Homo sapiens: one gene and its partner. The protein of the gene in region 1 purifies or fractionates together with the protein of each later gene. This does not show direct contact. Each region holds a gene or a part of one and is shown on either strand. Other genes may lie near its edges. The genes, in order: C9orf85 and PRTFDC1.

Region 1 (3,822 bases):
TTTCAACAATTCAAATCCTCCCCGTGAGTTGGAATTAAACTGAGAAATTGGGCTGTCCTGAATTGTCAGTTTGTTGAAGAGAACAGAGACTGAAATTTGAGGAAGGGGTGCCAGGGAGAAGCAGCTGGAAGCAAAAAGGCATTTCATTTTTCAGTTTTATGCTTTTGAATTCTCATGTTAAAAAAGTTTTAGAAAAGTTCCCCCTACTAACTTGGTTTCTTCAAACTTAAATAATATGTATTTGTATGTAAATATCTGTAGTGGAGAAAGGGCTTTATAAGGAAAAGTTTTTTATTGTAATTTTCTTTTCAAAATGTGTTGGGAAAGAAGGAAGATAGGAAAAATTTAAATGTGTCATGTATTTTCTCTAATAGTTTTATATTTTTGTAACATACTCATTTGATTCAGGACACAGACTATATATTTTCACTGAGTACTCTGAGAATTCTCTAGTTTGCTTTGGCTGTGAAAGCTTGGTCTTTGCCTATTGTTGGAATAATGAGCAGAAGACATTTAAAATTTTCTTTGCTTCTTTTGTTTTCTTTTAAAATTTCTCAAGGGGAGAAAGAAATGCACCACAAGTATGCAGATTCTTTGGGAGGCTATTAGATATTAAGTTAAAAGCACAATGTTTACATCAGATCATCTGAAAGAAACAATTTTTGAACAGCGCTTGATATTCTTGAAAGTTCTAAACAAAAAGATAAAATATTTGATAAAACATTTATTCAATGAGAAAATATTTTAGAAATATTGTGAAAAACCATAAATTAAGCTGTGAATATATTTCATTTTATTTAATTTTTCTCTTTCTTCAAGGAATCTTCACCATCAGGAAGTGTGAATATATTATGTTTAACTTTGTGATGAGAAATACATTCTGTTACTTACAAATTGTGTATGGGTGCATTCCTTCCTTCTGGACATAGATGGAGAGTCCCAGTTCTGCATGCTACTATATCCCCTGCTTACTCTAGGCCCCTAACTGTTGCCAGAAAGAAGGAAATCTGTGCCTACACACCAAACTCTTCGTCCTCTCAACCTTTGTACTTATTAATAGTTATCATGGACAAAGCTAGCTAAGAAATGCAGAAGCAAAGTTCACATTCATCATTTGTCTTCTCTGTCGTCTAGAACATCTTACTAAGCATTACTTATATTTCCTTAACTGAATGACTTTGAACTATGACTTCAATATGAATGTGATATTAACTTCCTAATTGGAACATTCTTAGAACACAGACATTTCACTACCTGCAATTTTATTGTATATAACACATTCTGCTTGTTAACTAGGAAGCATTCTTTGGTTCCTTGTTTGTTTCTGTATCCAATTTCTGACCAGTTCATCTTGATTTACAAAGCTGTGCAGAGTTTGGAAACTGGTTTCTTTAGGGTGGATCAACAGTAGAACAAAACAGGTCTTTGTGGGAACTTGTCCTGTGAGTGATGTGTGAAGCAGTATAAATAGATATGTTGTACAGGGTTCATATGACTAACAGGCACTACTATCAAATTAAACTTGATTTTTATGTGTTAAGAAATTAATGAGAGTAAGAATGAGAAAGAATAGTACTTTTCACTTAAAAATAGGTGCAGAAGAAAGAAAAGTATATACCTGTTTTACCATTCTTTGGCAAAACAGAAGTGAATTCCAGAGATGTGAGCAAAGAAAGTTAATCCTAGTTCTAGGAATCCTTCTGCCTGGGGGGAAGGAAATGACAATCTAACCTTATTCACATTTATATTTACAATTAACCCTATTTTGGCAATTACTTTTAGTGTATCCCTCATGGTAGAAGATCATAGGTAATTAAGGTTAAAACTTAAGTCTGTCCAAATATAAAATCAAAAGTTTTATAAATACAAAAGCCTATAAAGGTCATTTAGTTCGTTCAACAAGCTACTTTCCAGATTTGTGAAGAAAAAAAAAATCTTCAGTGGAAGAGTCCACTGAACTTAGGAATCAGTGAAAGAAGAAACCCTTACTTATCAAATGAATACTTTTCAAAGTTAGAATAAACTTAAGGAACATCAAAAAACATGCCTACTTAATATATACATAACGTCTTAAAAATGTCTTAGCCATCATTCCTACAACTTTTTTTTTTTTTTGAGACAGAGTCTCACTCTGTTGCCCAGACTGGTGTGCAGTGGGGCAATCTTAGCTCACTGCAACCTCTGCCTCCTGGGTTCATGCAATCCTCCTGTCTCGGCCTCCTGAGCAGCTGGGATTACAGGCGTGCACCAGCATGCCAGCTAATTTTTGTATTTTTAGTAGAGATGGGGTTTCGCCATTTGGCCAGGCTGGTCTCGAACTCCTGGCCTCAAGTGATCCACTTGCCTTGGCCTCCCAAAGTGCTGGGATTATAGGCGTGAGCCACCGCACCCGGCCTATACAACATATATTTTAGAGTCAGTGTTGTTATTGCTGCTTTAAGCATTCTATTTGTTGTCAAACAATATATCTTTAACACAGTAATGCCATACAGAAGTTGGGTGAGAAAGGGCCGGGTGCGGTGGCTCACACCTGTAATCCCAGCACTTTGGGAGGCCGAGGCAGGCAGATCACCTGAGATTGGGAGTTCAAGAACAGCCTGACCAACATGGAGAAACCCCGTCTCTACTAAAAGTACAAAATTAGCCGGGGTGCTGGCGCATGCCTGTAATCCTAGCTACGCTGGAGGCTGAGGCAGGAGAATCCTTTGAACCTGGCATTTGGAGGTTGCAGTGAGCTGAGATCGTGCCATTGCACTCCAGCCTGGGCAACAAGAGCGAAACTCCTTCTCAAAAAAAAAACAAAAAACAAAAAAAAGAAGCTGGGCGAGAAAGGACTTCAACTCCCAAGAAGGTAGCAAGAGCAAATTGTAAATATTATATCTGTATCAACATGCTGATGCTGAAAAATATTTTATAAAGTATCATTTAACAGAAGGAAGATACTACGGTAGTTGAAAAGAAATTTGAATACCATTCAAAAGCAACTAAAATAATTTTTCCTTAGGTTTTTTTTGTACATAATTCTTTCAGAATTGCCAAAGGTAAAACAAAGGCCTGTTTACTCCTCTTAACTGAAAACAAAAAACAAACAAAAACAGAATTAAAAAAATGAAATTCTCAAAGAAAAATGCCAATGCCAATTCCAATGCTAAAAATCTATTTCCATAAACTGGCTTTGTTCTTTTCCCTGCAGTACTCTTCTCCTAAAATAAGGTATTTTATGCCACTACTGCTGTAACAATGTTACTCCAGAAATAGAAACTTTTATATCTTATTTAATCATATTTAAAAGTAGGTACTTTGAAATTTGCTGGAAAGAGTCCCTTATTCTAAATTTGGCTAGAGGATAAAAGATCCCTGGATTTGGGGGCAAGAACTCACGTGACTAATAACAATAATGTGAAAATCTGACTTTTAGGCTGCTGCTTCCTTTTTTTTTTTTTTTTGAGTCGGAGTCTCACTCTGTTGCCCAGGCTGGAGTGCAGTGGCATGATCTTGGCTCACTGCAACCTCTGTCTCCCAGGTTCAAGTGATTCTCCTACCTCAGGCTCCTGAGTAGCTAGGATTACAGGCACACGCCACCATGCCTAACTAATTTTTGTATTTTTAGTAGAGACAGGGTTTTGCCATGTTGGCTAGGCTGGTCTCGAACTCCTGACCTCAAGTGATCCGCCCACCTTGGCCTCCCAAGGTGCTTGGATTACAGGTGTGAGCCACAGCACCTGGCTTTAGCCTGTGAGTTTCAAATCATAAACTACATTATTTAAATTCCTTTAAATATGGCTAGAACATTGTTGGACATAAAGTATCTTACAAAACACA
Region 2 (3,822 bases), on another chromosome or scaffold:
TGTTTCCTTTTTTGTCTTCCACTCTGTGAAATTCTACTTTTTTTTTTTTTTTTTTTGAGTCAGAGTTTCACTCTTATCACCCAGACTGGAGTGCAATAGCACAGTCTGGGCTTACTGCAACCTCCGCCTCCTGGGTTCAAGTGATTCTCCTGCCTCAGCTTCCTGAGTAGCTGGGATTACAGGCGCAGACCACCAAGCCCGGCTAATTTTTGTATTTTTAGTAGAGATTGGGTTTCACCGTGTTGGCCAGGCTGATCTTGAACTCCTGACCTCAAGAGATCTGCCCACCTCACTGTGTGACTTCTGATGTCTGTGAGGTTTATTTTTCTCTTGTTTTTATTTTTAAGCCTCACTTACTAGGGATCACCCTGTGTTTGAATAGCTTAGTGTTTGGCCTACAATTGGTTAGAAGTTGTGCTCAAATACGTCAAGCCAGTAAGTCTTCCACTCTCTGCTGATGGGGGTGTGTGGGGACTTGAAAGTAGATTCAAATTTCCAACCATTTTCAAATCTTTCGATGTTTACTTTCCCCTGAGCTTTCTTGTGCCTTCTCTGCACATGTACACAGCCTTCACTGTCCAGGGATGTGTGGGTGGCTTGAACTCACTCTGCTGTGCATATGTACAGCCTCTGGTCAATTGAGATGCATGAAGAACTTATTGTGTGCCCCTGTTCTATGACTGTCTAACCTCCTCCCTGGAACTTCCTATCAAATCCCCAGCCAGCCTGCCAGTGCACTGCTCAGCGGTGACTGCACCTCAGGATAGTGGAGCCCTGCCACCAAGGTGACCATTTTAGCTTACAGTGTTCCCTATCAGGTGAGCTCCCTCTGGCAGTGCACCACCTTGGTGGAACTGCCTGTTTGAACAACAGAGCTGGGGATAGGGGCTGGGGGGTAATAAGAGCATCCCCACACAAGAATGCCCCAGACTCATGCTGTTTCCACCCAGTGTTCAGGGTTTTCAGAATTAAATGCTTCTCAGTTTGTTGTATGCCTTTGGTTGATTTCCAACATGATGAGATGGTTGTTTTTGGCAGTTTTGCCCAGTTTTATAGTTGCTTTTCTGGAGAGGATGTGTTCACCTCCTTACTTCATCATGTTGGAAACAAATGTTCTTTTTTTTTTTTTGAGAAGGAGCCTTGCTCTGTCGCGCAGGCTGGAGTAGTACAGTGGTGCAATCTCAGATCATTGCAACCTCTGCCTCCTTGGTTCAAGGGATTCTCCTGCCTCAGCTTCCCGAGTAGCTGGGATTACAGGCACCCGCCACCATGCCCGGCTAATTTTTGTATTTTTAGTAGAGACGGGGTTTCACCACGTTGGCCAGGCTGGTCTCAAACTCCTGACCTTAAGTGATCTGCCCATCTTGGATTTCTTAAAGTGCTGGGATTACAGGTGTGAGACACCACTCTTGGCCCAAATGTTCCTTTTTAAGGAGCATGCCAGATATTCTGATGTACATTTTTTATGATCGTGTGTCTTCTTTAGAATTCAGTAAATACTGCCAGGCATGGTGGCTCATGCCTGTAATCCCAGCACTTTGGGAAGCCAAGGTGGCCAGGTCACCTGAAGTCAGGAGTTCGAGACCAGCCTGGCCAACATGGCAAAACCTCGTCTCTACTAAAAATACAAAAATTAGCTGAGCATAGTGGCAGGCGCCTGTATTCCCAGCTACTTGGGAGGCTGAGGCAGGAGAATCACTTGAACCCAGGAGGTGGAGGTTGCAGTGAGCCAAGATCGTGCCACTGCACTGCAGCCTGGGCAACAGAGTGAGACTCCATCTTAAAAAAAAAAAAAAAAAAAAGCAGTATGTTTTGAACACCTTATGTTCAACCTTAACAAAGCTTTTCTATCGGTGGGTTTCTGTTTCCCAAGGTTTTCCCCACATTCCTCTGAGTAATCGAATACGTACAATACATCTTGCATTTCATTAAAGCAACATAAATACTCAGAAGTAGTTGTGCCTTAATATATCTTTTATCCTTCTTTCAGAATTGAGCGGCTGGCCAAGGATATTATGAAAGACATAGGATATAGTGACATCATGGTCCTGTGTGTGCTTAAAGGAGGTTACAAATTCTGTGCTGATCTCGTAGAACACCTTAAGAACATCAGCCGAAATTCAGATCGATTTGTCTCAATGAAGGTTGATTTCATCAGACTAAAAAGTTACAGGGTAAGTTATTACAAGTTCCGCTTTATGACATTTCATTTAACAATGCTTTAGGATAAAAGAATCAATAATGTTATGAAAATGAAGAGTGCAATTTTTAAAAATGGAGATGAAAATGAAGGGTAATTTTAATTTGCAAGAATACGGCAACCTAACATAAGAATTCAAATGATACTATTTAGGGCGTGGGGTGGGGACCTTCTCTCTATTTTCACATATATGGGAAGACTCAGCAGTAATGATTTGTGCTTTCTTTTATGGTGATAAAGTGAGTGGTTATATCCTGGTGCCCAGCCCCACAACTGTGTGTGGTCAGAGTGTGAACACTGATTTGTTTTTTCTACTCTGGATGTCACTATGGGTCCTGGGGACCTATGGGAGGGTGTCCAGCCCAGAGAGGAGTCTTAGTACTTGGGTGGCTGCAGTTGTGGCCTGGAAGTAAAGAAGGGAAGGCTATAGGGACAGCACATTGCCAAGTGTGAGGAAACAAGGCCAGGGAGCTCCAGCAGAAGGCCCCTCCACCAGTTTACTCCATTAATTCTGTCTTTCTGTGGGCACCACTGGGCAGAATTAATGGAATTATTCTCCAAAGATGTTTCCTAACCAGATGCAGTGGCTCATGCATATAATCCCAACACTTTGGGAGGCCAAGACAGAAGGATCCCCTGAAGCCAGGAGTTCGAGACCAGCCTGGGCAACATAGTGAGTCCCTGTCTATATACAAAAAGAAAATTTTTAAAATTAGCTGAGTGTGGTGGCATGTGCCTATGGTCCCAGGTACTCAAGAGGCTGAAGTGGGAGGATTGTTTGAGCCCAGGAGACAGAGGCTGCAGTGAGCTGTATGGCACCACTGCACTCCAGCCTGGATGACAATGAAACTCTTGCCAAAAAAAAAAAGCTGTTGTTTCCTTAGTCTCCCTCCTCCTCCCTCTATGATGTTAACTTCTTTGATGCTTTTTGATTTAATGCATAGTAAAACATTAAAAATAACTTACTATTGGGTGAGGAGCTCTTGGAGTCAAACCATGAAAATATTCTCGTTGACTAAACTAACTTGACACATTTTAATTCATGAATCACTCTTTGAATTGGCCTTCTATTGCTGTGTGGCAAACTCACCACAAACGTAGTGGCTTAAACCAACATACACGTGTATTATCTTAAAGTTTCTGTAGGTCAGAAATCTGAGCATGGTGTAGCTGAGTTTTCAGCTCAGAACCTTACAGGGATGAAATCAGTGTGTTAGTTGGGATTTTGATATCATCTGAGGTTTTCAAGATCACTGACTGTTGGCAAGCTCAGTTCCCATTTCCTTGTTGACTGTAGGCTGGAGTTGGTAGACTCTCCACTCCTAGGGGTTGTCCCCAGGTGTTTGCATCAATTACCCCACAGGTCGTTCACAACACCATTAGCTGTTTGCTTCTTCAAGTCTGACGGAATAATCTTAGCCCTTCTTTTATAGCTCACCTGATTAGATCATGTTCACCCAGGTAACCTGCCTTTTGATGAACTCAAAGTCATCTGACTAGTCACCTAATCTTTGGTGCGAATTCCCACCACGTTTACAAGTCTTACCCACACTCAAGTGGAGAGGATTATGCAGGGTGTGTACACCAGGGGACAGCGGTCTTCAGGGCCACCAATCTGTCTT

What was found.
Region 2: the proteins of C9orf85 (region 1) and PRTFDC1 purify together in Homo sapiens (affinity purification with mass spectrometry; one large-scale study listed by BioGRID and IntAct). This does not show direct contact.

What each region holds. Positions count from the first base shown.
Region 1 is NC_000009.12:71,942,527-71,946,348, reverse strand, and holds part of C9orf85 (uncharacterized protein C9orf85), read right to left. Parts: intron 1-3,822.
Region 2 is NC_000010.11:24,935,536-24,939,357, reverse strand, and holds part of PRTFDC1 (phosphoribosyltransferase domain-containing protein 1), read left to right. Parts: intron 1-1,990; coding exon 1,991-2,174; intron 2,175-3,822. UniProt on the Homo sapiens protein: Has low, barely detectable phosphoribosyltransferase activity (in vitro). Binds GMP, IMP and alpha-D-5-phosphoribosyl 1-pyrophosphate (PRPP). Is not expected to contribute to purine metabolism or GMP salvage.